4 linked regions of the Homo sapiens genome follow. The protein of the gene in region 4 purifies or fractionates together with the protein of the main gene of each other region. This does not show direct contact. Each region holds a gene or a part of one and is shown on either strand. Other genes may lie near its edges. The genes, in order: MTHFR, LRP6, ITPRIP and RASSF1.

Region 1 (7,458 bases), on a different chromosome or scaffold from region 4:
CGCCTCATCTTCTCCCGGAGTCTCTCATGCCGCTCGGGGTCCAGGCCCGGGGTGGAACATCTCGAACTATCTTTGGAGCTCTCACTGCCACTGCTGGCACTGCCCTCCAAGCAGGGGTTGAGGCTGCTGTTTCCTCTGGCTTCGTTCACCATGGCTGGGTTCCTACTGCACAGGGTGGGGCAGGGAGCATCAGGGGGCAGGCAGCCACACCCCCGACACATCAAGACACCTGAGTGGCAGGTTCAAGCCGGAGGCGCTGTATTTCCACACAGGAAGAAGGCCAAAAAAGGTGACACTGCCCCCTCCCAGTGGCTCCATGCTCCTCAGCTATGGCTGTCCGGGCCGCCTCACTCAAAGCCTTGCCCTCCGCTGCTGCCAGGCTCCTTGCATGCAAGGCAGCCCCCACCCGGCACTGCAACATGCTCCTCGGTGACAGCTACCTGATGGAAGGTGGCACAGAGGACCTCACGCTGCCGACCTGCGAGGCCCATATTCCTAGCGAGGGGCAGTAGTGCCCAGCTGGGAGGACCCTGGCTTTTCGATGGTCCATCTCTGTCAGCTCAGGCCCAGAGTGCGTGGGGAGGGAACAGAGGCACCTTCCCCAGCGGGTGTGTTCAACTGGGCGGAGCTGCGACAAAGGAAGAGGCTTGAGCTCCAGCCAGCACAAGGGGGCGGGGGCAAGGCTTCCAGGCGAGGAGGGAGGGCTGAGGCTCTAGTAAGGGGAGGCGGATGGAAGGAGGGGGACTCAGGGGCAGAGACTGCAGGGGTTGGTGGAGATGAGGCCAACAGGCGTTCAGGGATACCAGATCACCCTCCAGAGAAGGAACAGCTCACTCTGGCTGGCTCTGCCTGGAACATCTGTTACTTGAAACAGTTCGTGCACAGGATGGAAGGGGTGAGGGCTTGACTATGCAGCCAGATTTCTCCTGAATTCATGCTACTCCAAAAAGACCGTGTTGTGGGTTAGAACTTGATGCTGGCCATGTTCCAAAAATAGCCAGACCCAAGTTCAGTAAGGGCACGAATTTCTCAGAACAAAAGCTGCCCCATCTGTGCTTGCCTTGCAGGCTGCTCTTCTTACACATCACAGAATTCAATTCAAATCATCACAGTGACCCAGCTACTGGGAAGGCTGAGGCAGAAGGATTGCCTGAGCCCAGGAGTTCAAGGCCAGCCTGGGCAACATAGCGAGACTCCATCTCTTAAAAAAACAAAAAACACACCTGTAATCCCAGCACTTTGGGAGGCCGAGGTGGGTGGATCACCTGAGGCCAGGAGTTTGAGACCAGCCTGGCCAACATGGTGAAATCCCGACTCTACTAAAAATATAAAAATTAGCCAGGTTTGGTGGCGGGCGCCTGTAATCCCAGCTACTCTGGAGGCTGAGGCAGGAGAATCGCTTGAACCCGGAAGGCAGAGGTTGCAGTGAACCAAGATTGTGCCATAGCACTCCAGCCTGGGCGACAAAAGCAAAACTCCATCTCAAAAAAAAAAACAAAAACAAAAAACAGAAACAAGTAATCAGAGCCACCAGGGCACAGACAGGCCAACAGAGGGCATAGGGTCATCTGGCAGTCTGGTTAAGAAAATAAGACAAACACTTAAAAACAAACAAAACACTTGCACAGCAATGGGCAAACACACAGTAGTGAATGGGTGTGTGGTGACATGGCACAACAGAGGAAAGCCCAGGTGAGGTTCATTTCTTTCAGACTGTCCACCACTAACCCTGTGTACCTAACCATTTGGGGTCTTAGACTCTTTTGACAATCTGATTAAATGCACTGCTCCCTTCCCCTGAAATACACACACAGGTGCACAGACTACACGGGGATACATCCAAAGACAAGGAGTTGATTCCAGACTAAGAACCCTGGGCCAAAGCTTTCTCCCTCTAGGGCTGCTCTCTTTCATTCTGACCTCAAACTCCAGATTCTCAGTGGGGATGGCTGTGGGGAGTGAGGAACGGGGGCGGGGGGGAGGAGTAACAGCAAGAGCAGCCAGTTGGCTTTCCTCCAGCGTTTAAGGGCGCACCTCGTTAATTGCTTGCTGGAACAGAACCTAGAGTAGGAGGAAGCTGAACCACCTGTAAACCCTCTGATTTTCAAAGACTTATTGCATTCCTAGTATATGCCACGCATGTGCCATATTTGTAAGCCAACTCCCACGATTTATCCGTTATCAGCTGGACTCCCATAGCACCCTGGGTTGTAACTGTGGGTGAAAAGGCCTGTCTCCTTTCTCTTTCCCCAGTTCCCTGAGACAGGACCGGTGTCCTGCCTGGGGTATCCCCAGAGTTTGGCACACGGTGATAGCCAACATTCACTGAGCGCCAAAGGGCCAGGTGCTGCCACTCTCTCAAAATAAGCCTCTGCCACTTACTGAACAACTAGTCTGCGCCAAGCACTGGGATACTAAGCCTACGACTCCCAGAAAGGTCCCGGCGGACCCCCGTGCGCAGCGGGACGCAGTGGGCGCCAGGGACCGCAGTGCCCCGGGCCCAGCGCTCTTCTCCAGGTGATCGCCGGGGAGGCAGGTTTAAAAGGCAGGAGCCGGAAGCCGTCTCGGCGCCCAGGTGGCCGAGAATCCAGTCACCAGGTCACTGAGTCACCGATGGGGGCGAGGACACGGGCCTGGGCCGGTCAGAGGGGCGGGATCGTCACCCCTGGCTCAGGGGCCCCTCCGTCCAGGCAGGGAGCCAAAGTCAGTCTTCGCTTGAGGGTTGGCGGTCGCTGGAAGTGGTAGCCATTGGGAGTTACACTAATCCCGCGAAGGGTGCGCAAGGGAGGCGGCAGCCCCCCCCAAGAAGAGAGGCAGGCCGGCCTCCAGCGCTCCCCGCCCACAAGCACGTCCTTGCCCCCGGGAGGTTGTTTGCCGGCTCCAGGATCTCCCTCCCGGCGACCCCGGCCTCGCCGTCACTCACCCTCCAGTCCCGGGTGACTCAGAACGCTCGGCCGCCGGCCGCACCACTGTGGCCGCTGCAGGGGCGGGGAACGCAGTGAAGGGGCGCGGCGCAGGTGTCAGGTTGCTGGAGAGGCGGGCCTACAGGGCGGAAACCACCGGCGCGGGTGACCGGAAGCCCCGCCCCCAACATGGCCGTGCCCACAGGTCTCGTTGGAGGCCGTGCCTTTATCGTCATGTGACGCGAGTCCTCGCCCCACCCGTCTGCAGCCACTCCTGGTCTCAGTCCCAGAGCTCGAGAGGGCCACGTGACCGTCCCGGGGCCAGTCACGTGAGGCGCAGATCCTGGCTGGGAGGGGGTTGGTAGAGGGGTCCAGAGTGGCAGTAAAGGAGGAAGATGGCGGGGTGCAGGGGGTCTCTGTGCTGCTGCTGCAGGTGGTGCTGCTGCTGCGGTGAGCGTGAGACCCGCACCCCCGAGGAGCTGGTAAGAAGCCGGCGGAGTCGGCCTGGGGAGGGGGCGGTTGCTAAGGGACTGAGAGAGGCGTTGCCGGGGGTGGGGCCGGGCCAATCTGGGCCCGCAGGTGGCAGCGGGTGGGGCCTGGGGACCGCAGCCAGGGCTCTCGAAGCGTCTACCCTGCTTCACGTGCCTAAGTCTGGGGTCTTTTCTCATAACCCCTCCTGGAATCTGAGGGAGAATCCAGGCCAGCTCCAGTAAATCCCACCCATGTTTCCTTTTATTTCCATCTGAAAAGAGTTTGGAATGAAACAAGCGTTTTCAGAATGAGCTTCCTCACAGGACTTTGTGCTTATCATGCTGCTGTTTTAGCTTCTCCAGTCCTTTCTCACTCTATCCCTCACCCTTTCTGGGTCACTGACAGTCCAGCTTCCCCCTGCAAAGCATCCTGGGAAAACTTGAGTTGTGTTCCCAGAGTTGACAAGTCCTTTCTGATTTCAGATACGTCACACTGTCAAATGGAACCTGCATTTTTACCCCCCTTTTCAGCTGGCGTTGGACATCTTTGAGGTGTCCTGAAGAGGAGGGTGGTTATTTGGAGACTATCAGTGGAAATGAAGAGCTCAGCTGATGGCTGTAGATCCTCACCCACATGGTCCCTCACCCCTGAAAGGTTTTTTTTGAGGGCTGGTTCCTATTTGATAATGGCTCCAGATGATTTAGAAGCTAGCCACTGATTTCAGTAAATACTTCTGCCTCCTTCCACTCCTAACCACTAAAAAAGGCTCCCTCTGCGGATCTGTTTTTCTAGACCATCCTTGGAGAAACACAGGAGGAGGAGGATGAGATTCTTCCAAGGAAAGACTATGAGGTGAGCTCCTTTGATACTGCTTGGGCAACTAAAGTAGTGAGTGGCCTGGTCACTTCAGGCCGAAGCATTATGATTCCAACCAGAGATGCTCTTTGACCTTCTGTCCCAGGGAGTGAGTGGGTAAGAGAACTTCCTTCTAGGAAAGAGACTGTTTAGCAAGCCCTTTTCTCACCTTAACCCCAAAACAAGGTCTGGTGTTTTTACACGTTTATAAATCTGTGGCACCTTAACCTGGATAGAGTATGTATTTGCCATTAAACTGTTTGCTTTTACAGCTTACAGAGAGACTTAGAGTGAAAGGCACTGGCAGGCAGTATGTGCCCCTAACAGGTGTGTGCTTATAAACTGTTAAGGAGGCCTTGCTTCTCTTCTAGGAGAGCTTGCTTTTCAGATATTTTCTTGCTCAAGCAGCTTCTCTCTGACATGTTCTTGATTAAGTTCCACCTTTCATGTATGGGATTCTTAGAGTATGTGTTTTTAGTAAAGCCAACACTGCTGGGGTGAAACAACATGCGTGACTTTTTATCATTAAATTCTTAAACGTAATAAAGAAGGTAGAGAAAAGCCTATAACTCCATTCATTAAAAGATGACTGTTAACACCTTACTAAGTATCTTTCTACATCCTTACCCATGCTTTTATATACATGATACATGCTTTTTTTAAGTAACAAAAATGAGATTCCACTAAATCATCTATTTTAACCTGTCCCACTCACCCCCTTTATTATACTTTTTGTATCATTAGGTAATTTTCCACAACCTTTTCTTTTTTTTGACAGAGTCTCACTCTTCCATAAATTCTTCATGCTGTAGAATTTAGTGTCAGCGTTAGGATTTGTAGCACTTTTTTGTTTAACTTTTATTATGAAGGATTTCAACTATATGCAAAAACAGAATAATCTGTTGAAACCCCTTGTCCTCATCACACAGCTTCCACAGTGATTTAGCTCAAGCCCAGTCTTCTTTTGTCTGTGCTTTCGTTATCCACTTCTCCTTTCTCATATTATTATTTTTTATTGTATGTGTGTGTGTGTTTGTGTGTGTGTGTGTGTGTGTGTGTGTGTGTGTGTGTGTGTGTTTTAAAGTAAAGACAGTCTCCCTATGTTGCCCAGGCTGTTCTCGAACTCCTTGACACCAGCGATCCTCCCATGTCAGCCTCCCAAAGTTCTGGGATTACAGTCATGATCTACCATACCTGGCCGCCCTTCCCATGTTATTTTGAAAGAAATTCTGTACATCATATTATTTCACCCATAATTCTATATGCATCTCTAATGGATAAGGACTTTTAAAAAGCATAACCCAATACTATTACCACATCTAAAAAATTAGGAATTTCTTGATATCAAATATCTACTGTCCAGATTTTCCAGTTTTCTTGTAAATGTCATATGTATTTTAACTTTATTTGAATTAGGTTCCAAAAGTCCTTTTTTATTTGTTTGATAAATCTGTTAAATCTCTTTTAATCTGTAGCTTCTTCCTTCATCTTTTTTTTTTTTTTGTAAGTTATTTGACAACATAATTAGGACCTGGGATTTTCTACTGTCTAGATTTTGCCATTTGGAGCCGTTTGTATAGTTTAATATGCTACTCTGATGGGACTGCTTTGAATGAACCAAAAAGCACTGTATCCACTGCTGTGTTTTGTTCTATTTCTTTTTTTTTCTTTTTTTTAAATTTGAGATGGAGTCTCACTCTTAGTGCCCAGGTTGGAGTGCAATGGCTCGATCTCAGCTCACTGCAACCTCCACCCCACCCTAGGTTCAAGCGGTTCTTCTGCCCCAGCCTCCCGAGTAGATGGGATTACAGGCGCCCACCACCATGCCCGGCTAATTTTTGTATTTTTAGTAGAGATAGGGTTTCACCATGTTGGCCAGGCTGGTCTCGAACTCCTGACCTCAGGTGATACTGCTTCGGTCTCCCAGAGTGCTGGGATTACAGGTATGAGCCACTATACCTGGCCATTTTCTTCTGTTTCGTAAGTATTTGTTTTCTTGTACATAGTTGAGAAGTTTGCAGGAATTAGTATAAGATACTCCATATTGTTCTGTCACCTTGCACTCCCTCACTGAACCCTGTTACATCATCCTGACTGTATCACCAGGACTGAGACTGTCTCACAGCCTTCATCCTACTTCTAGGAGCTCACCAAGGCTTCCCCATTGACACCCAGGCTCCCTCACCCCTTCTACTAAATTGTACTTACATTTGTAATGTGCTTGCCTTCAGCTGATATGCATATTCATGTAAATTTTTGTTGTTCTTGTCATTGTTTGAGACAGAGTCTCACTCTGTCGCCCAGGCTGGAATGCAGTGGTACGGTCTTGGATCACTGCGACCTCCACCCCCGCCTCTGAGTTCAAGCTGTTCTCCTACCTCAGCCTCCCAAGTAGCTGGGACTACATGCATACACCACCATGCCTGGCTAAGTTTTGTATTTTTAGTAGAGATGGGGTTTCACCATGTTGGTCAGGCTGGTCTTGAACTCCTGACCTCAGGTGATCCACCCACCTCAGCCTCCCAAAGTACTGGGATTACAAGCGTGAGCCACCACGCGTGGCCATATTCATGTACATTTCATGGGTTAATGTTCTTTTGATATTGGTCATTGATATTTCTCAACCATCTTCAAGAATGAGCTTCTTGAGAGCACTTGCTTTGTGTAAGAACAAATTCAGGCACTTAAACAGAAAAGTCTGGATTTTATTTATTCAATAAATAAATCAACTTGACACAAAAAGTATAATAAAGAGGGGAGTGAGTGGGACAGGTTAAAATAGTTGATTTAGTGGAATCTCATTTTTGTTATTTAAAACACGTGTTAAAAGCATGTGTATAAAAACGTGGGTAAGGATGTAGAAGGATATTTAGTAAGGTATTAATAGTCATATTTTAATGAATGGAGTTATAGGGTTTTCTCTACCTTGATAGTCAGTCAACTAGAAAACCCTTCTGTTGAATATCTTTCTAAAAAGTGCCCCTTCTTCCTGTCTCAGGAAGAGTTCATTGCACATATTTGACTCTTTATTTGATAAATTTAGGGTCTTACAAAATGTTAGAATCCCATTTTGACATCCATTCTCATTATAGGTGGTTTGAAAAATGGTAACTTTCTGTGAGATGTGCCATTGCAAACAGGAATGTTTTCATGCAGGTCACACAGTCTATTTATATTGTACCTTTGAATTAGAAAGAGGCACACTCAGAACGTAAGACTTAGAATTAAA
Region 2 (7,023 bases), on a different chromosome or scaffold from region 4:
TGGTTTTGTTGGCACGCTCAATGCTGCGTCGGCTCCAGTCCGTCCAGTAGATATAATCTTGGTACTGAGTTAAGCCAAAAGGATGAGGCAAGTCATCTGCTATAACTTCACGGTTGAGCCCTATTTTCAGAAAGGCAGTAGACAGGGGAGAAGCAGAGTGATGAAATATGTGAGAATACAAGTGTCTTGCTGGCAAAAAGAAAAAAAAAAGCCCTAACATATAAAACATTACATTGTAAGCAATTTAAAATAGAAAAATTCATTTAAAAGCAATTCTAAAACGAGACCAATTCTCTGAAATCAATCTATCTTCTGACCCCATGCTTCAAACTTATATTCCTGCTACAAATCACTCAGTTTCCTAAAATTCTTGCAAATGGTCTACTTTAAATGTGGTTTTATTTTCTCTATATAAGGGTCTACAGTTCACTTTTTCTTCTTGAACTATAGAAGGAAAAGATGGAAATATATATATTTTACTGGTACAAAAGTCATTTCAGGAGTATCTAGGGAGTTATAAATTTCATTACAAGTCCAATAATAATGAAACTTTCACATAATAAAAAGATGAATCCAAGTACCTGGATCACTATTAATAACAAACAGGATACAATTCCAGAACAGAAGAAGAATGGACACATTCATATGAAGTTGTATTAAAAGTATCTAACCAATGATAAATAGCAGCCACTGATATTTGCATGGAAAGAATATACTGTTTGAGTAAAAAGTAGTAAAGCTTACCAAGCATATTTGAAGATTCTATTAAGTTGGTGTCCAGGTCTGTCCAATAAAGCCTCCTTTTAGCATAATCAATAGTTAGGCCGTTTGCCCGCCCCACATTTGGAACTAAGGTAGTACGTTCACTTCCATCCATTGCAGCTCTGTCTATCTTAGGTTTTCCACCCCATTCAGTCCAATACATAAATCTAAATTCAAAATAATAAATATTTAACATTTCAATTTTTTATTATCTGGGGGAAAGAGTCATATTCATGCAAAGTAACTAAATAAATTTAAAGAAAACATACAGCAAATCAAGGAAATGGGTTAAACAAAATCACGGCTACAATGCTTTCAATTATTTTGGCACCCTAAACTAAATATTTTTTTCCATATCCCAAAAAGGAAGTGAGTCAGCTTTCCTTAGTCTTTCCAATACATTTGTTCCATCCAAACCTAGGAATTGGAAATAAACCAACAGTTTATTGCAGTACTGGCATTTGTAAAATTAACATTCAAGAAAACAGCAAAGGTTTAAAGCTCTGGTCTCAGAATCTGGTTCACTTCTGAGTAAAATATTTTTATATACTTTTGAATATTAACTAATTTGAGTTTTTAATATGCTGAACTTACTTTTTGACTTGTGTAATCAACTCTTCCTCAAAATAAGTTGCAGAAGTACATGAAAGGTAATTATAAATACTAAGCCTTTAACTGAAGTCAAAAGCAAAGCTTGAAAATGTATTTGGTCATATGGTCCAAGGGAGCATACTATATGGTAAGAACAACGACTCACCCCTTGATGTGTCCACTGGGCAATGAACACTACACTACGCTACAACAATCTCTGTGAAATTTTAGAATAATTACTTTGCTGTTATTTTCCATTTTTGAGTTTTGCACTTTAATCTTACAGTAATCCTACAGTATAGGCTTTTTATAGATGAAGAGCCCAAAACACTACAAGAAATGTGAACAACTTATCTAATGTCTTCAAGCCAGTTAGATGACAGAGCTAGAACTAGAACCTAATCCTTGGCCAAATGCCCTTTCAAGTAAACTAGTGAGGTGCTAGTTTTTGAGACTCTTGAATACTGGAACTAAAAAAGCACATCACATGCCAGCTCTCACGAAATACCTGAGGACATATATTCACTCATCAGCCTGTCAGCTGATAGCTGACTTGGTAGCAATGTATGAACATGCTTTTCTGAAAACTGAAGGTGTCCTGCCTTTATATGCATTTGCACTTGTCATTTGACAGGCATGTGCACACCACAAGAGCCAAAGAGAAACAACTGTGAGAGAAATTTCATACTTGCCAGCAGCAACCAATTAGTCCCAACTATTAAATTTATCTGTCTGGCAGCTAATGTTTAGAGCAAAGATCACCACAATATGTCAGTGCTGACTAGATGAATTACTAGCTAATCATGGAATCAATGTCACTTCAGGGAAATTATTTTAAGTAGCAAATACAGTAAACATATTTATATGTTCACACTGTTTACTTCTTTTTTTTTTTCCAAGATGGAGTCTTGCTCTGTTGCCCAGGGTGGAGTGCAGTGGCACGATCTCGGCTCACTGCAACCTCCACCTCCCAGATTCAAACAATTTTCCTGCTTTAGCCTCCAGAGTAGCTGGGACTACAGACACATGCCACCATGCCTGGCTAATTTTTTTTTATCTTTAGTAGTTACGGGGTTTCACCATGTTGGCCAGGCTGGTCTCGAACTCCTGACCTTGTGATCTGCCCACGCCTCGGCCTCCCAAAGTTGCTGGGATTACAAGCGTGAGCCACCACGCCCGGCCTGTTGACTTCTTTTATAAGTGGAATTTTTCTTTAGATTTCAGATTTCTTAGCTGCCGGCTTTAAAAAATTTGCTGACTCTTGTAAAAAGGAACACTCGCCCTTGAAAAACATCATGTTGTGAACAGTTTATTCTATCTTGTAATAACAAAGCTACTGCCAGTTTATAATAATGATCAAACCAAACTATCCATTTTGAATTAATAAATACTCCAAAATAAAGCTTTTTAAATGTAGTTTTTTCTTAGCTCACAACATTGTTTCGGTGGGTTTACTTCAATAGGCTTGGAATCTAGTATAACTGGGAAGGAGTGCAAGCAACTACAGATGGATAATACCTCTTGGTATATATACTTAACATATCAGTATACTCATCAGTAACATTTATTAACCCATTCCCCTCTTTCTTCACCTAAAGTTAATTACGACAAGAGTAAAATTAGCTAATAATTATTCATTCAAATCAGCAAAATATCAATAGTGTTTTTAAAAGTTCATCTATCATTTAGTTCTCAGATTCCTAATACGTATTATTTAAAACATTAAGAATATCATCTGTAACTATGCCATGTTCCCCGAAATGTACACTGCAGTTGCAAAGAATGCACATGTAAAGCTGTTTACCCTTCGGCAGGGTCCAACGCGAGAGCTCTGGGACTATCTAGGTCTTTCCACACCAAAACTTGTCGGTGCTGCCCATCCAACTTTGACACCTCAATTCGATTCGTTCCTGTGTCTGCCCAGTACAAGTTCTTCCCAAGCCAGTCTACTGCCATGCCTTCTGGATAATCTAAGCCGAATTCTACCACATGTTCCAGTGCACTGCCATTCATAAAGGCTCTGCTGATGGTCTGCAAAAGAACATTAACAACTAAGTCATATGGCATAAGTCTAAACCCTATCCAGAAAGAAGGTTTGGTTTGGTTTTTGTCAGGGGCAAGAGGATCCAGAAGTGCCAAGAGGCATACTATTTCCTATTAAAATTCACATAACTTGCAAGCACAGAAAAATTTGATGTCAATCTCTAATAAATGCAACTTCAAGTTTTACTGCCAATTCAGGGGAGAAATTTTAAAACTCTAATGCACCAAAAATTTATTCTACTAACAGCAGAATGACTTTACTTTTAAAATTTATCAGTAATCAAGTGGAAAAGCTGTGACCACAATGCTACAGATCTTAATTAGTGGTCAATTTTCTAAAGGTGCTTAAGATTATGGCAAGTCATCATGCCTACCATATAAATGAATGTAACCATTATACTACCATTATAGCACTGAGTCCCATAACACTTTTAAAAATCATAATTCAAACTAATAATAGATACATCTTATCAAGTATTATCCTAAGTACGTTTTGTCCGTAGATTTTGTCACTTAATACAACAGTCCTGCAAGTATGGCATCACCCCTATTTTATGTTTTTGAGACAGAGTCTCACTCTGTCACCCAGGCTGGAGTGCAGTGGCATGATCTCGGCTCACTGCAACTTCTGCCTCCCAGGTTCAAGTGATTCTCGTGCCTCAGTTTCCCGAGTAGCTGGGATTACAGGTATGCGCCACCATGACCAGCTAATTTTTGTATTTTTAGTAGAGACGGGGTTTTGTCATGTTGGCCAGGCTGTTCTCAAACTCGTGACCTCAGGTGATCCATGTGCCTCAGCCTCCCAAAGTGCTGGGATTTACAGGCCTGAGTCACCGCACCCAGCCACCCCCCATTTTCAAGATGAGGAAATTTAGAACATCACCCAATGCAAACCAAAATTTATTTATTTCATTTATTCACTTAATAAATTTAACTGAACACCATTAGAATCCAACTCTGACTCCAACACCCCATGTTTTCGCATATTACAAAAAAGTTTACATGAGTTATCTGAAACAAGCCCAAAACAATCTGGAAGAAGAAAAGATTATTCTTCAGATTTATAGGTTGGGAGCTTCCTCTCTGGCTATCCTGGTATTCTTTTCAGTAACTATTCTAGGAAGAAGAAAATAAAGAATAACTCATTGTTGGCCTTTTCCGCCTCAGTCAGGCCCTAAAATTTTGTTTAAAGTAAATCACGAATTTTTTTTTAAAGTAAATCAACAGCCATTTTACGTGAAGCACACATTTCCTTACTCAGCTAATTGCAGAAAATGTCATTCATCATTTTCAAATGGAAGAAAGTAGAGGAAGACTATGGCTTGCAGATTTAAAACACTCTGGCAAAGTATCTGTATTAAAAAGCATCTAATAAAATACTGAATGGGCCTTTCCCTTCACTTAAAAACTTAAGGGTTTTGGCTGGGCGCGGTGGCTCACGCCTGTAATCCCAGCACTTTGGGAGGACGAAGCGGGCGGATCACGAGGTCAAGAGTTCGAGCGGCCTGGCCAACATGGTGAAACCCCGTCACTACTAAAAATACAAAAATTAGCTGGGCGTCGTGGCACGCACCTGTAGTCCTAGCTGCTCGGGAGGCTGAAGCAGGAGAATCGCTTGAACCTGGGAGGCAGGGGTTGCAGTGAGCCGAGACTGCACCACTGCACTCCAGCCTGGGTGACAGAGCAAGACACCGTTTAAAAAAAAAAAAAAAAACTTGAGGGTTTTTGTTGAACTCTGCCTGTCAAACAATGAGGGAGGTGGGTCACAGCATGAAGATTCAGAAATTCTAGAAGTTCTCCCTTTTAGTCCCTAGCTTTAATATTCCAATTCTTTTGCTAACCTTGAGTGATATATCAGTCCAATAAATTCGGTTGTCTGTCACATCAAAATCCAAAGCAGAAGCTTCTTTGACACCAGTGAGTGGAATAGCCACATTATTATTGTTTGTTTCCAGAGAAATTCGTCTGATATCTGCTCTCCGTGAAAACAAAAGGAAAGCCTCTGGGACAATGCAGGTCTTCATGTCACTGATGAGTTCAAAGCCAATAGGGCAAGCACAGCGAAGGCCCTGAGGTCTATAGAGGCAGAGATGGCTACATCCCCCGTTTTCCTCAGCACAGGGGTTGGAACCTAAAAGATTAATTATAAAAGGGGCACAGAAGGACACACACATTGATACATTCAACATATTTTCACTTTTAAATTACTTAAGCGTTTGGTTCACAAATGCCTATGATTATGTCTTGCTCCCAATCTCAAGTTTCAATTCTAATATCACAAACAAGTAATATGCAGATTAATAGGGAGTAAAAGCATGGTGAAGTATTTTCCTTTAATACCACAGTAAGCTTTAAAGTAAGGTATATTATTCATACTATCAGACTGAATTCTTTTGATGAAGGTGTGCCTGTGCATGTGTATTCAGCCCTTCAATTCAAACTGGGTAGCTAGAGTAGTAAGTCAACGTTTAAAAGGTCCCTTCTCAGTAAAAAAAAAAAAAAAAAAAAAAAAAAAAAAAAAAAAGGCGGGGGGGCAGTAAAGAAGGTTTCAAAATTGCCTCAAAACATCAATAATTTACACTGCTGACTATCTCCATCTTTTTTCATTCCTGGTTCCCATTTCTAAGAAAGCTTTGGAGTTACTCACCAATCACTCGATGAACATTTGTAGCCTTTAGGCCCATGAGGTCAGGCAGCTGATCTATGATCACTTCCCTCTCTGCACTTCGTTTATGAACTCTTTCAATGCTACGCCTCTGCCAGTCAGTCCAGTAAACATAGTCACCCAACAAAGTAAATCCAAATATGTGAGGAATTTTGTCTTCCACTAGTACTCGTCTCCCAGTGCCATCAGTATTCATAACCTTCAGGTTTAAATTCAAAAGAGAAGGGGATGAATTATGCATTTATTCTTCAGCTAAAAATAACAAATCCAACTGCCTGTTGTATAAAAATCCAAGAGTCATCTTGGTATTCCTATTACAATGCTTTCTCAAAATTACATGATGATTTTATAAAAATGATTTCAAATTTTCCATATAAGCCTCTATTTGACCACTTTTCCCCCCAATCTCATATTACTCTTCCTTCTAAAAATTCTGGCAACTTTAGATTATGCAACTCTTCTATTAAACAATTGTGGCAAAATTAAAAATACAGTATCATCACCTTAAGTTTGCACATTTGTTTTCAAATTATAATGTACCTTCATATACATTATTTTATCATATATTTTGTTTTATAACATCTTTTATTTTATCTTGAGAGCTTTGCCTATGGAAACTGAGATTCATGTAAGGTCACAGAGCTTGTAAACACAGTTGATGTCTTTTTCAGGACTTTTTCCACTTAGCATGCTTTTTATTTTGTTGTTGTTGTCAGTAACAACAAAAAACAGATAAAAGGGATCTCAATAAATCTCTCATTCCTCTGAGATTATAATCACAAAAGTATCGGGATTATATGACACCCTCTCTGCATCTAAGTTTCAAGAAACTAGGATGTACCTTCTCTTTCCAACTACCTAATAGTAACATTATTAAATTCACTCTGGCATTCATACTGTATTCACAGTGCATTCACCATGCACTATTCAGTGTTGACTTACTTGGGATACCTTTATTGACA
Region 3 (7,023 bases), on a different chromosome or scaffold from region 4:
ACGTTCAGGCAAAACCACACTTTCTCAGTGGGACAGGGAGGGGAGGCTGCACGCTTAGACGCAGGCTCTGCACAATAGCAGACACACTGACTCAATGGAAAGGGGAAGGGACTGGAACAGAACCGGGAGTAAACACAAAGGAAAACAAGGAGGGAACAAAGCCCTCCCTTGGCCACTCCCCGCCCCCTTCCACTTTCCCCCTTTCACTGAGAAACTAGGATGGATGGAATTAAATAAAGGGCCAGCACCCAGCAGCCACCTTCTGTTTGACCCCTGGATGGGAACAAAGAGAGCCCAGCTTAGAAAGACACTCTGCCTCTAGGAGATGGGGGAGGATGAACCCCCCAAGGCCTTGTCCACGACCTCGGAAAGGCTTGTTCCCCACCTCAGCCTCCCCACCCCACTGGTCTCTTACCCACGTCCTGGCTTCCTGAGATTCTAGGCCCCACACAGTGAAAGAAATCCCAGACTGTTCTTCTACCCGAGTCCCCCTGCGGCTTAGGCGGTACCTGACACAAAGCCTGGGCCCCAGCTGGGCTGGGGAGAGCGGGGAGGGGAGAGGAAGAGAAGCGCTGTGGGCCTCCTGCACGCATGCACACACACACACACACACACACATACACACATGCACGCACACACACACTCTCCCTGCAAAGATCTAAAAACCCCTTTCATCTCAATAAAGGGGAACAGTAACAGACACAAAGACAAAGGGGAGGCCAGCCCAGCTGTAAAAAAAATTAAGAGCGTCTTTGCTTGTGCTCTGCTGCAAGGATCTGGGCTGAACAATAGAGCCGGGCCTCTGCCAGCCCTCCCACACCAGTTAGTCAGAGCAAACCAGTCCTCCTCCTCTCTGGAGAGCAGAGGGCCCACATGGTAAGGCTAGGAACAGTTAGCAAAATTGCTCCCAGAAGTACCTATGACTACTCAGAGTCACACTCTCTACGGATTGCACAAAACAACCCTACTATGACATCATTTTCTAGTCACAGGGACGGAGCAATAAGGTGTGATGCGGGTGCTCCACCGAGGCTGTGCTGGCACCCAGTAGGTGTCCAAATAATGCCTGCTGAATGCATGGACCCATGACTCATATGTGCGTCAGTCAGACTGAGGTGGGCAGCAAGCAGCCACTGATAGTGTCAAGTTCACACAGGCTCATTTCCACTCCTACTGTCACCGAGAAAGAAACAGCCCAAAGCTCATCAGCTAAGAAGAGCTTAACAGTTTGCAGAGGCTTAGAGAACCATTGCTAAGGAGTCAAACTCTGGAATCAGAAGGCCTGGGTTTGAATCTTGGCTCTACAACTTGCTATGGCAATAGTGTCCAATTTATGGCCTTGTGGACCATCTCACAGTCACTCGGCAGTGCTTGGTAAATGATACTGCTGTTGGCACTGGTACTGGTGCTGCGGTCATGTCTCCTTTTTGATTTGTTAAATCGTCATGGTTGCATGTTAAGGAGTCCTCTGGGAAGAAGTGGGTGAACAACATCCCTGCAGCTCCTCCAGAAGCCTGGGGAGTATGACTAAGTTGTCTCCTCCACCTCCTTGTCTTCTTCTAAAGGCCCCAGGGGCTGACACAGAGGAAGAGGAGGAAGTTTGGAGACCTAGGAAGGTCAGCAGCACCCTCCCTTACTCCCTCCAATCTGGCATCATTGACACTGACAGCTCTTCCATTAGGTTCTGAGTACCCAGCTTTGGAAGAGGGTAGTTGCTATAATGAATGCTTGCTGAATACATGAATGGAGTTAGGATTGGGAAAAGAACCTCACTGCCTTTACTCCCAGGAGCAGGAATTTGAAATTCCTGGAGTGAAGTGGAAAGCTCTGGATAAAGTAACTTCTACATTCTTTCTTCCTGGGAGGGGCACTGCAGTCAGAAAAACAAAGTGCTAACAGTGTAAGTGCCTTGGAAAATCCCTTCCAGCAAAATCCCTTCCAGACGTAGCCCTGGAGACAGAGACGGTTGCAGCCCCGTTTGGTCTGGACTGGCCTTCATGTAACTGCAGGCAGACTCACTGCCAACGTTTAGAAAATGGCCCAGGAATGAACCCTGACACGTTTTCTGACCCTCAGCTGCCTTGCCGTGGACACCTCCCTTCTTGCTCAAGCTTCTTGTAGAAATAAACAGAGGATTACAGAGTAAGAGAAGGAGCAGAGAAGTAATTCTTCTTTCAGGAAAAAACTGGACAAGCCTCAGGGCCCTGACACACCATGGGAGGGTTTAATGAATTACAACCACTGCATCCCATTTATTGAGGCTTAAGCATTGCACAATAAAGCTTTACATGTATCATTCTCACATCAAACCTCTGAGGCAGGCACTTATCTCCATTTTACAGATAAGGCAACTGAGGCACAGAGGTGAGGCCACTCACCAACATCATAGAGCCAGGATCTGAATCCAAACCTATCTGACTTTCAAGCCTATACTCTTCCCATGAAGCCACGAGCTGTGCTGCTCAGTGACCTGGTATCTGTGAAACATTAGACATGTACCTATGGACTTTCCTCACCCGGACTGTTTAGGGAAGGGTAGGTGACAATCTAGATGAAATGTGGGCATGAAGCAGGGAGTAAAACCTAATGAACTTATGAGACTCCTTCTACCAAGATTCTGTGAGTGTGGCCTGGGCTATTTGAGATAAAAGGAATGGAAAGCCTTCTCTGCAAAAAAGGGAGTGAGGGCTCTCTTGACACTGGCAGGTAGGCATGTGTTGGGGTGAAATGTCAGGAAGCGGCATGGGTACATTAGGGACATTTTGGGGCAGCACACAGGGGTAGGACCCAGGCAGCCCCTGCTCTCCTACCCTCCAGCCCAGGCATGCTGCACCCCTGCCTCCTTGGGAACTTTGGAACAAAGTCTCAGCAAACAAAGGACGCGTTCGTAAACTTCAGGCGGGTCCCCCGGCTGCTGCTAAGAGGCTATTGAAGCCGGCTCCCATGAGAACAGTATGTTATGAGCACATGGTTTTGCACTAGCGGGCAGGGCCAAAATAATGACAACACCTTCCCTGCTGCTTTGATACAGGAGGAGGGGGCGAGAGTTGGGGGGACTCCTGCATCAGCTTCAGGGAAATGACCTAGAAGGGAGAGAAAGCAGTAGCAGCCCAGGGTTGCTTCCAAGCTGAGCCCCTCTTCCCAGGCAGTGAGTGTCCCACTGTGTTATGCACCTGGAAGTGAGTCATTTGATAATTGCGGGGCTTTGTATTTTTCCTAGGGACTTCCAGCAGAGGACTGCAAAGTGCTCTGAATATTATCAGGAACTGGTTGTTACTGTGCCTATTAAACAGAAAAGCAAACAGTGCTGGAAGGGAAAGCCTTTCCTTCCTTTCACCCTCAGATAGCTCAGGCCACACTCACAGAATCTCTTGGCAGAAGGAGTCTCCAAAGCTCACTAGGTCTGCTAATATCAGAGTGAGACAGCAGGAAGGGACCAGAAGTCTCAGGCCTGGAGTTGGTGGTCTGCTTGCTGTTTTCTCAGTATTGACACTTAAAACTTTGTGGGATTCTTTATGCCATCTGTATGTGTTCTGGGCTACAGTGTCCAGACAGACGCCTGAGGTGGCAGAAAGAGTCCAAGGCCCTGGGAGAGAGCAAATCTAAATTCGAATCTCTTCTCTGTTGTTGTCCGTTTGGGGCAAGTCCCTCTGAGTCTGTTCTTTCACCTGTAAAACTAGGATAACACCCACCTTGAAGGGCCATTGTGAGGAGGAGAAATAAATATGTGTAAACCCCTAGAATGGGGCTTTGCTCAGTAAATGAAGCCACTATTTTTTTTTAATAAGGCCATTCTACTTATATGAACAATGTCATATCCATAACGGTGGATTCTGCAGATTAATGATACTCTAATTTTTATTTATAAACCTGAAAAAGCTAGGTGCATACAAGAATTAGGGCAATGACTTTAGCCACCGAAATGCTGGACATCAGAAAAGCACCTGAAGTTATGCCTAGTTGCACAAAACAAAAACTTTAATCAGGTGCCTTCAAGTGGAAGGACAAGGCGATTCCTGAAACCTCTACAGAGACACCTACTATATCATCTAGTTTTTCATCTTTCTTCAGGGCAGGGAGTCCTCCCTTTCCTGCCTCTTTCGTCTCCTGTGCTGACATTTGGCAGCCCTTGCTTAGGAGAAGCAGCAGGCATCACCTGATAAGATGTGGCGGAAACACAGGTCACCAAGTTAAGAGCATCAGAACTGCTGAGTGACCTCAGCCTTGTAAACAGTGCCATCCCAGGGACAAGATGGACATCCATGGCTGCCCCCTCTGACTCCACTCCCAAATTAGCAAGTGTATCTCAAGCACACCCAACTGAAAGCATTCCATGAATTTAGTTTAACCCATCTAGAATTCCACAGGGAATGCTAAGTTGAGTGAGGTGAACTGTGAGACGGGATTCCTATCTCCAGTTGGTCCTGCCTCTTGGGGCAGTGGATTCCATACACTCTTCCTCTCCATGTGCATTTCATCATAACGCTCCACGAGGCCGCTGAATCCCTGGCACAGGCCATGCATAACAGATACACAATGGCTGCTCGATCAATGAAGCCCCCGTAATAAGGATGTGAGCATCCTATTTCTCACTCTCTTTTGTGGGGAGGCTGAAGAATGGAAAGTCACTTTTCTGATGGCCCCATCACTGCTCCAGCCTGCCCTTCCCCTAACCCTCCTTACAGATCCAGGCTGCAGGAGGACCCCTAAGGAGTCCCGTTCAGAGAACTGAAGGAGACTGCAGCTGTCAGCACTGCGCTCTCTGACCCAAGGCCTAAAGACCCACCACCAACTGACACAGCCCAGATCTGAGACTGCAGCACCTCCCTCTTCTATTCACCCTGCCGCTAACTGGGCCCATCCTCTCCCCAGCCTCTGAGAAACACACCTGTGAACGTTACACCTTCTATGTCCCTTCCCTTCAACATGCGTCTCACACTTGAGGCCGATTTTTCACCTCCCCGTCCGCCTTAGGGTGGAGGCGTTGCCCTGAGCAACAGTGATGTCACCTGCAGGGTGCTTCCGTTTCACTGATGTCACGGGGTGGGCCTAACAGATAGAGGGGGGATGTGCTCTCTGTGGGGAAACGTCACAGGTCCTAAACTGTTGAGGAGGGGTCTACAGGCCTCTGGGGCACTCCCAAATGACCCCTTTCCTCGCCCAGAAGAGCTCCTTACCCTTCCTTCCTCTCTGGATGCCTGTTAGAGCTCAGGCCTCAAATCTGACTTTCCCTCTGCCAGAGTCAGCCAAAAGATCAGGATGAGCAGCTCCAAACAAACTGCTGGAAAGACCACTGAGGATAGATGTCCTCCCCGTCTAGGACAGTCTAGGTCCCTACAGCCTTGTCCTTTGTCCAGACCTCAGAGGAGGGAGCAGTGACCTGATGGGGAAGTTGGGGCCCAAGTCGGCAGAGAATGCAGACCTCCAACCGACCTCTGCTGTCCTGAAGAGCGCACACTGGCCAGGTTTCCAGTCTGCGCCAGGCACGGTGCTCAGAGCCTTCTGTGCATCGTCTGGGTCAACCCTCCCCACAGCCCTGAGGGTCATCCCCATTTTACTGATGATGTTACCGAGACTTGAAGAATCAAGGCACCTGCCCAACTACTGAGAACGCCCAACCACCGAGTGGTGGAGCCAGGACTCAACTCAAGTCTGCCCCACTTCAAAGCCCGTGCAGTCACACCGCCTTGGCTCTGGGCACCTGGAGATGTGGCTCATTAAAGATGAGCCATGAAGGGCCTGGACAGAGACCAGAAAGAGCCCTTTAAATCTAAAGAGGCCAGCTGAGCAGGGCAGGCTGCCTGAGGCAGCCGAAGCAGGCACTGCTTTAGGAATGCTTCACCCCCTGGCCTACGCAGGGGATGCAACAACTGGCCAGCCTTGGCCCAGCCTCCATGCTGATTGGGGACCACGTGTCTTTGCTCTATGCTTGGCTTTCTATTGATCCATCCAGGTTACCGGATCATCCTCTTGATTTGCATATAGCACTTACTCTCATGGCCTGGCCCTACAACTCTGAGATTGTACAGTAGTTATCGAATTTACGCAAATGCAAATCTATGTCTCTGGGAGCTAATGCTTGCAAAGCACTAAACAAATAGGTAAATAAAATAAAAAATTACTACATTATGAGAGAGGAAAGGGAGAAATGCTACCAGGATTTCTCAGGGAAATACTGCCCTTGAGGCACTGGCCAAGGAGATGCCCATAGCCAGGCTGACCTGAGTATCCAGTCTACCTGGCAGCTATCTTTCTGCTGGTGAGAGGGCCGCAGAGGTAGACAAAGCCCTGCACTATTGGACATCACTGTCCCCCACCCTCACCCCATGCTGCTCCTGCCTGGTTCTGACTCCAGCTTTGATAAGCGCAGTCCACCTTCTGGTCTTTGGTTTCCCATATGGCTTGTCTAGGACGCAGGGAAGAGACGACATTCAGTCTGTGTGATGTTTGCGAAGTCTCCTTGCAAATTAATAAACCAGCATTCTGATTCGTACACCCTCTTCTGGGAGCTTTCTCAGGGTGAATCAGTAGCTTGAGTCCAAACCACTCTGAAAATTATGGAAATTGGGTTTCTGAGCGGGCACAGCTAAGAGCCATGCCCTGGGACAGGTGACGTGATCCAGGTAAACACCACCCTCTGAGCAATCTGCTGGGCACCAGCTGGCCCCTCCCAGGAGGCATCTTGACTTCCTCACTGATGAGAAGCCTATTTTGTTTAAAGTGCCTATCGACAGTACATAGTGAAATGCTCGGTTCCAGCTAATTAAGCGCTCAGCTGTACGGTGTGGAAACTAAGAGATCATGTATATGGAACTGTGAAATGGAGTTTCAGGAAGGGTTCTTGGACGAACTTGAGAAGGGCATTTGTGGGTGAATGGGACTTCAACAAGGAAGCAAGAGACCACAGATGGGGATTAGGGGTTTGGAAGGTCAGGACAGTTGTCTCACCTCCTTCCACTCGCTCTCTGCCTAGGTCAGGACCCTGCGTGCAGCCACCGCCGTTTCCCTCTGAGCCACACCTGG
Region 4 (7,023 bases):
ACAAGCTAGGACTGGGCTTTCTGATGTCAGGCTCTTGGCTGAATGATCTCTGGTAGGATCCCTGACAGCAGTTTGTATGGAAGATGGGCCCTACAAAACGGTCACCTTACTGAGACAACCAAGTCAGATGTTCCCCAATTACCTGTGGACAGGTCAGGCATATTCTGAGTCTAATTTCACTCCACAGGCCTAATACCTTGGAGCCAGAAAGCTTCCAGGTAAAAAGTCTGAAGGGGGCCTCCTCATGTCATTAGATGGACTCCTGCATCTCCAGAAGATTTTCCACACCAGGAAAGATCAAAGCACCAAGGCAATTCTTCCTGGCTTCTTGGGACAACCCTAGGCTTTGGCATGAGTGGTCTGGAAGCCTTTGCTTTAGTTACAATGCCTATACACTCCTGGAACTGTTTTGCAGGGCTTGTCTTCCAGCACAATTCCTCCTCCAAGCCTTACTGTAGCTACAGCCCATCAGTCCTGTCTAGTGACAACCAAGAAACTAAGAACTATGTACTCACGTTCACCTCCCCAGAGTCATTTTCCTTCAGGACAAAGCTCAGGGCCTTGTCACTGGGCCCTGCCAGGAGCCGCAGCCGCAGGGGCTGCTCATCATCCAACAGCTTCCGCAAGTACACTGTGAAGGGGAAGTAATGATCAGAGACAGGGCCAGCTGCTCAGCCCCTGCATGCTCAGGTGCATGCGTATATACCCTCACATAGGGCAGGGTGGGGTGGGAAGCCCACCTTGGCCGTGACGCTCAGCGCGCTCAAAGAGTGCAAACTTGCGGGGGTCATCCACCACCAAGAACTTTCGCAGCAGGGCCTCAATGACTTCACGTGCCCTTGTGCGTGACAGCACATGCAGGTGCTTGACAGCATCCTTGGGCAGGTAAAAGGAAGTGCGGCGCCTGACACTTGTGCCCCGTCCTGGGCCCCGCCGGGCATCCTGCAAGGAGGGTGGCTTCTTGCTGGAGGGCACAGAGACAGGGCGCACCAGCTTCAGCTGAACCTTGATGAAGCCTGTGTAAGAACCGTCCTTGTTCTAAAGAAATAGAGAAACCAAACCTTGATAATAGGTTCCAGGTGAGATGTCAGTCTACTTGGGGCTAGGCTGGGTATGCACAAATTACTGCTTGCGCCCACCCAAGATAACCTCAGTTGTGACCCTCTGAGTATCAGGCACATAGCTGGGTACCTGCTCCTCCCCACGCCCCCTTCCTGAGCAGTCAACTCACCAAGCTCATGAAGAGGTTGCTGTTGATCTGGGCATTGTACTCCTTGATCTTCTGCTCAATCTCAGCTTGAGAAAGGTCAGGTGTCTCCCACTCCACAGGCTCGTCCTGCAAGATGGGCCAGCATGGACACAGGGCCCTTGAGGAACCCAGGGCTTCTCTGAAAAATGGCCTCTGGGGCAGTCTTTGGAAACTGACTGCCTTTGGCCCCCTGTCCCTGATGTACATATACATAGCTGGTGCCCACCCTGAACCCACCACTGCTCCTGGTTTTGCATGCTCTGGGTGGATAAGGGAAAGACAGAATCATTTGGCTTCTCTCTGCTGCCTGCCTAGGGCCTCAGCACTGAATGTAGCCTTAAGGATACCACAGAAGCAGGGGCAACTGAAGGCACATGGCCAGGGGCCAGGAACAGCTGAGGGACTCTGAAGAGGGACTCTCATTTAAAGTAAAATCAGGCTGGGTGTGGTGGCTCACATCTGCAATCCCAGCATTTTGGGAGGCTAAGGTAGGAGGATCACTTGATCCTCAGGAGTTTGAGACCAGCTTGGGCAACATAGCAAGACCTCATCTCTACTAAAAAAAGAAAAAAAAAAATTAGCCAGGTGTGGTGGTGTGCCTGTAGTCCCAACTGTTCAGGAGGCTGAGGTGGGAGGATCGTTTGAGCCCGGGAGATTGCAGCTACAGTAAGCTATTATCGTGTCACTGCACTCCAGCCTGGGGAACTGAGTGAGACCCTGCTTCAAAACACAAAAAACAAAAACAGGCTGGGCACGTTGGCTCACGCCTGTAATTCTAGCACTTTGGGAGGCCGAGGCGGGTGGATCACCTGAGGTCAGGAGTTTGAGACCAGCCTGACCAACATGGAGAAACCCCGTCTCTACTAAAAATACAAAATTAGCCAGGCGTGGTGGCACATGCCTGTAATCCCAGCTACTTAGGAGGCTGAGGCAGGAGAATTGCTCAAACTCGGGAGGTGGAGGTTGCAGTGAACTGAGATCGTGCCATCGCACTCCAGCCTGGGCAACAAGAGCGAAACTCGGTCTCAAAAAAAAAAAAAATCAGTAAAATCACACCTCAATTGCACATTCTGATCACAGCACCCTAGTTGAGTTGGAGTGAGGGTTTGTCCTGGAGAAGGCAGCCCATTTTTCTCCTCTGCCCCGGCACGGGGCCATGACCCACTGCAGGGTGAGAGGAGTGGAGAGTGGTGCACATCAGTAGTCCAGCCACCAGTGGACAGAGTAGTACTTGGAGCCAGTTCTCCATGTCTCACACATAGTGAGAAAAATCACTGTGACATGATGTTTAACCTTGACCCAAGCTGCATAAAAGGCAGCTTTAGGCCAGGCTCCAATCTGCCAGAGGTACACAGGCAGCTTCCTGGTGGGTTTCTGCACCTGCCTGTGCTGTCTGGAGATTTGGCCCAAAGATTTTTTTTTTTTTTGAGACGAAGCCTCACTCTGTCGCCCAGGCTGTAGTGCAGTGGCTGGATCTTGGCTCACTGCAAGTTCTGCCTCCTGGGTTCAAGCGATTCTCCTGCCTCAGACTCCCGAGTAGCTGGGACTACAGGCGCGTGCCACAACAACACCCGGCTAATTTTTGTATTTTTAGTAGAGATGGGATTTCACCACATTGGCCAGGTTGGTCTTGAACTCCTGACCTCAAGTGATCCGCCTGCCTTCACCTCCCAAAGTGCTGGGATTACAGGCGTGAACCATCGTACCCGACCCAGAGATTTTTAACTCGACCACTCACTCCCCACCTCATCTAGGGACTGGATTCTTGCCGGAAGGGTGGAGTGTGGGACAGGGCAGCCAGGGCTCTGAACCGACTTTCTTCTCCCAGACTCCCTTGGCCCCACTGCATCAGCCTTACTTCCTGTTGACGTCAGATAGGCCCTAGTTAGAATGCGAGTGTCACAGACACAGCTAAGCTCAGCGCTGACCAATACTTTGTCCCAGAAGAATTCCCACAAGGTTTCCTGTAGAATGATCTTGTGCCTAGCCCAGGAGAGCCAGGGTTCTCCCTGACTCCGCCCTGGAGTCCCCTTAAGCACTTAAACCATCTGATGGGGACAAATGGAGAGGACAGATGAGGGAGCAGGGTGGAGCGTTTTAGCAGAATGCTCCTTACCCAGAACCCGCTGCTATTCTGCAGCCAGCAAGGATGTGGGGCTAAGAACTAAGGCCAGGGCCTTACAGGAAAAAGGTAAAGGGGGAGGGGTGGGAATTTAAGCTCATTTTCTTCCCCAAGTATCCAAAGGTCTCCTGGATGGAGAAGAGCACTGGAGTAAAAACCCCAGTACAAACCTTACTGGGGACAGTGGGCAACCTTGTCGGGTTAGTAAAAACAAATGGTGTGGGCCCTGGAAAATGAGGGCTGGAGGCTGTGAATAAAGCAGTGGATGTGTTTGTTCAGTACACCAACGGGAAGAAGTACCCAGATGGGAGGAGTACTAGGGGCAGGAGAAATGCCAGACAGACTCTAGTGCCAGGGCAAGAAGGAAGATCATTTTGTTTGCAGAACAGGGAGGGCACAGGGATGGTGCTAACTTGTTCTTGTGATGGCTCTGAGCTCCTACCTAACAATGAGAAAGCTTGCTCCTTCTTCCCTTCCTGGATGACCCAGGAGCCCTGGGCTGGGATGCAGTGACCTCATTTCCAGCCCCTTCCCTTCTGGTGATGAACCTCCCTATCTTCACTCAGAAAACAGACTTGGATTAGAGGCACTGCACAGCCCTTCCAGGATTCTAAAGGAGGAAGAGTTTCTTTTTCTGTTTCCAAAGCTGCCTGCTGGAAGAGGATTTCAACAGCCATCCCAGTCGGATGCACAGCAGGACCATGGAATTTCCCTTCTGCACCATAGGGACCCACCCTCCACTCTACCACTGTCCATAAAAACTGATGGTTTTTTTTTTGAGACAGAGTCTCGCTCTGTTTTCCAGGCTGGAGTGCAGTGGTGCGATCTTGGCTCATTGCAATCTCTGCCTCCTGGGTTCAAGCAATTCTCTGCTTCAGCCTCCCAAGTAGCTGGGATTACAGGTGCCTGCCACCACAACTGGCTAATTTTTTGTATTTTTAGTCGAGACGGGGTTTCACCATTTTGGCCAGGCTGGTCTTGAACTCCTGACCTCATGATCCACCCACCTCGGCTTTCCAAAGTGCTGGGATTAAAGGTGTGAGCCACTGCACCTGGCCTAAAACTGATGTTTTTTTCTTTTTTTTTAACATATAACTTGGGACTTCTCAGCCTCCTATTCTTTCTTTTTTTTTTTTTTTTTTTTTGAGACAGAGTCTTGCTCTCTCATCCAGGCTGGAATGCAGTGGCCCAGTCTCGACTCACTGCAACCTCTGTCTTCTGGGTTCAAGTGATACTCCTGCCTCAGCCTCCCCAGTAGCTGGGATTACAGGCACACACCACCATGGCCAGATAATTTTTTTGTATTTTCAGTACAGACGGGGTTTTGCTATGTTGGCCTGGCAGGTCTCGAACTCTTGGCCTCAAGTGATCTGCCTGCCTTGGCCTCCCAAAATGCTGAGATTACAGGCATGAGTCACCAAGCCCAGCCTTCTTTCTTTTTTTTGAGACAGAGCCTCACCCTGTCACCCAGGTTGGAGTGCAGTGGCACGATCTTGGCTCACTGCAACCTTTGCCTCCCGGTTGAAGTGATTCAGTCTCCCAAGTAGCTGGGACTACAGTCACACACCACCATGCCCGGCTAATTTTTGTATGTTTAGTAGAGATAGGGTTTCACCATGTTGGCCAGGCTGACCTCGAATTCCTGATTGCAAATGATCCACCTGCCTTGGCCTCCCAAAGCATTGGCATTAGAGGTGTGAGCCACCGTACTTGGCTTCCTTTTCTATTTTTGAGACAGAGTCTCACTCTGTCACTCAGGCTGGAGTGCAGTGGCACGATCTTGGCTCACTGCAACCTCTGCCTCCCAGGTTCAAGTGATCCTTCTGCCTCACCCTCCCAAGTAGCTGGGATTACAGGTGTGCACCTCCGTGGCTAGCCCTCCTTTTCAATTGGTTAGTGTCTTGTGGTTTTCCCACCTTTCCACAGTGGAAAATGGCTCAGGACTGACTGACATGAAGACAAGCCCAGGGGTCTACACTCAACTCAACCCTTGCACCCAAGCTCTGGGCTAAGATTTTGGCGTGCTGAGCACCACCCATTTTGTAAGGAATTTTGTAAAATTTTATCTGAAGCATCACTCACAACTCCACTTTCTTTACTTAAATAAGGATTTCCGCCCCATTTCTGCCAGGCATACTGAGCTTCACAGTCCCTGTTTCTTTTTCCTGGTGCCTAGGCCTGGTTCTCTGAGCCTGGTGGTCACACCAATGGCATCTGGCACACAGTTCTCCGATAATGGGGATACCTAGGAGGTTCCGAGACACCTTACAGTCCTGGGTTAGTAACCTGGATCTCTTTTTCCACCTCTTTAGGCATTTTATAATCTAGCTTTCCCCCTTCCTGTGGGTAAAGTGCTCCTGAATGCTTATGGTCCAAAACAAGACTTCTTTCCTATCTATTCCCAAATCTTTCTCCAGATCCACCCTAGAGGAAGGGAACAGAATCTTCCACATTCCAGCAGCTGGTGACAGGCCAGAACAGGGAAGAGGTGAGGGCTCAGCTGGCTCCATACAGGAGTGCAGATGGAGGAGCAGGATCTCTCTCTGCCTCTCAAGTTTTCCTAAACATACTTCTCAATTCCTGGCGAGGACTCTTCCCTCTCCACATCCTCCCCTAGTCTCCCCAAGGAGGGAGCAGGAGCATTCGAACGCGGAAATCGAGGTGCTAGTCCAAACTGCTCGGTCGGCTTTAGTCATAGCTGGATAATGCCCGGCTCAGGTCTACCACAAGCCATACAGCTGCTTTTTCCGTGTTCAACCTGTCTGTGACAGAAACCAAGGGGGCCCCGGCACCCAGCATCTAGGCGGTGGAATCGGGGTCTTACGCACGGTTCCGCGGGCAGGTCCCCGGCCAGGACCCGCGGGGAGCCACGTAGCCAGGAGGGTGGGGCTGCCCACCGACCCAGGACGCGGCAACGGACCGGGGAGGGCGGAGCTCCAGCGACCGCTTCCCCTCCCGCCCGCCGGCACCCCCTGGCTCCCACCTGGTCCCGGCGCGGCCTGCGAGCTAGCGAGGTTCGCGCGGTGAAGTACTGCTCGAGCTCCGAGTCCGAGTCCTCTTGGCTGCAGTAGCCACTGCTCGTCGTGCTGCTCCAGGTCATTTCGAAAGAAGGCGCCTCCGCCTCGCCCATAGCCGTACCCGCCCGTCCCCCAGTCCTGCGCGTCCGTAGCCGCCAACCACCGCCCCGGTCGCGTGCGTGCGTGTACGCGTGTCAGTGTGCGCGTGCGCCCGGGCCAGAGCCGCGCCGCAACCGTTAAGACTGAAACGTAGATCGCCGGGATCTAGCTCTTGTCTCATTGGGGCAGGAACGCCGGGGCGGGGACACGCACGCTTCGCCCCCAGGAATGACCTCATCGCTCCGGAGCTCCACTCACAGACCCCACCTACCACAGGGAACGGGGGCGGGTGCCAGCGTCCGGGCAAGCGCACAAGAGTGGCCTCTGGCCGGAGGCGAGGGCGGGAAGGTGCGGGAAGTGCGCGTGCGCGGAGCCTGGGTCAGCCTGGGCCCGGGTCCGCTTGCAGCGGGTGGAGTACTTGCGGAGCCGGCAATCCAGGCTCCCCTCCCAGCCCCCGCGCAGAATTAGCCTCTCTGTGCCGCCGGGAAATCGGCAATTAGAACGCTCCTTGCGCGCGGCACCCAGGCAGCCCTCGA

What was found.
Region 1: the proteins of RASSF1 (region 4) and MTHFR purify together in Homo sapiens (affinity purification with mass spectrometry; 3 studies listed by BioGRID and IntAct, with this or other methods). This does not show direct contact.
Region 2: the proteins of RASSF1 (region 4) and LRP6 purify together in Homo sapiens (affinity purification with mass spectrometry; 3 studies listed by BioGRID and IntAct, with this or other methods). This does not show direct contact.
Region 3: the proteins of RASSF1 (region 4) and ITPRIP purify together in Homo sapiens (affinity purification with mass spectrometry; 4 studies listed by BioGRID and IntAct, with this or other methods). This does not show direct contact.

Annotation. Positions count from the first base shown.
Region 1 is NC_000001.11:11,802,965-11,810,422, forward strand, and holds the start of MTHFR (methylenetetrahydrofolate reductase (NADPH)), read right to left. Parts: upstream 3,001-7,458; 5' UTR 2,924-3,000; exon of another isoform or gene 2,383-2,923; intron 574-2,382; exon of another isoform or gene 551-573; coding exon of another isoform or gene 441-550; intron 166-440; coding exon of another isoform or gene 153-165; coding exon 1-152. Other genes in the region: CLCN6 (H(+)/Cl(-) exchange transporter 6), read left to right, coding at 3,299-3,385, 4,167-4,226. UniProt on the Homo sapiens protein: Catalyzes the conversion of 5,10-methylenetetrahydrofolate to 5-methyltetrahydrofolate, a cosubstrate for homocysteine remethylation to methionine. Represents a key regulatory connection between the folate and methionine cycles.
Region 2 is NC_000012.12:12,159,036-12,166,058, forward strand, and holds part of LRP6 (low-density lipoprotein receptor-related protein 6 isoform b precursor), read right to left. Parts: intron 6,261-7,023; coding exon 6,044-6,260; intron 5,528-6,043; coding exon 5,238-5,527; intron 3,385-5,237; coding exon 3,158-3,384; intron 930-3,157; coding exon 745-929; intron 121-744; coding exon 1-120. UniProt on the Homo sapiens protein: Component of the Wnt-Fzd-LRP5-LRP6 complex that triggers beta-catenin signaling through inducing aggregation of receptor-ligand complexes into ribosome-sized signalosomes.
Region 3 is NC_000010.11:104,328,450-104,335,472, forward strand, and holds part of ITPRIP (inositol 1,4,5-trisphosphate receptor-interacting protein precursor), read right to left. Parts: intron 5,457-7,023; exon of another isoform or gene 5,178-5,456; intron 5,050-5,177; exon of another isoform or gene 4,889-5,049; intron 544-4,888; exon of another isoform or gene 416-543; intron 1-415. UniProt on the Homo sapiens protein: Enhances Ca(2+)-mediated inhibition of inositol 1,4,5-triphosphate receptor (ITPR) Ca(2+) release.
Region 4 is NC_000003.12:50,330,819-50,337,841, forward strand, and holds part of RASSF1 (ras association domain-containing protein 1), read right to left. Parts: exon of another isoform or gene 6,693-7,023; intron 6,633-6,692; exon of another isoform or gene 6,502-6,632; coding exon of another isoform or gene 6,355-6,501; intron 6,314-6,354; exon of another isoform or gene 5,942-6,313; intron 1,337-5,941; coding exon 1,232-1,336; intron 1,039-1,231; coding exon 741-1,038; intron 632-740; coding exon 516-631; intron 1-515. UniProt on the Homo sapiens protein: Potential tumor suppressor. Required for death receptor-dependent apoptosis. Mediates activation of STK3/MST2 and STK4/MST1 during Fas-induced apoptosis by preventing their dephosphorylation.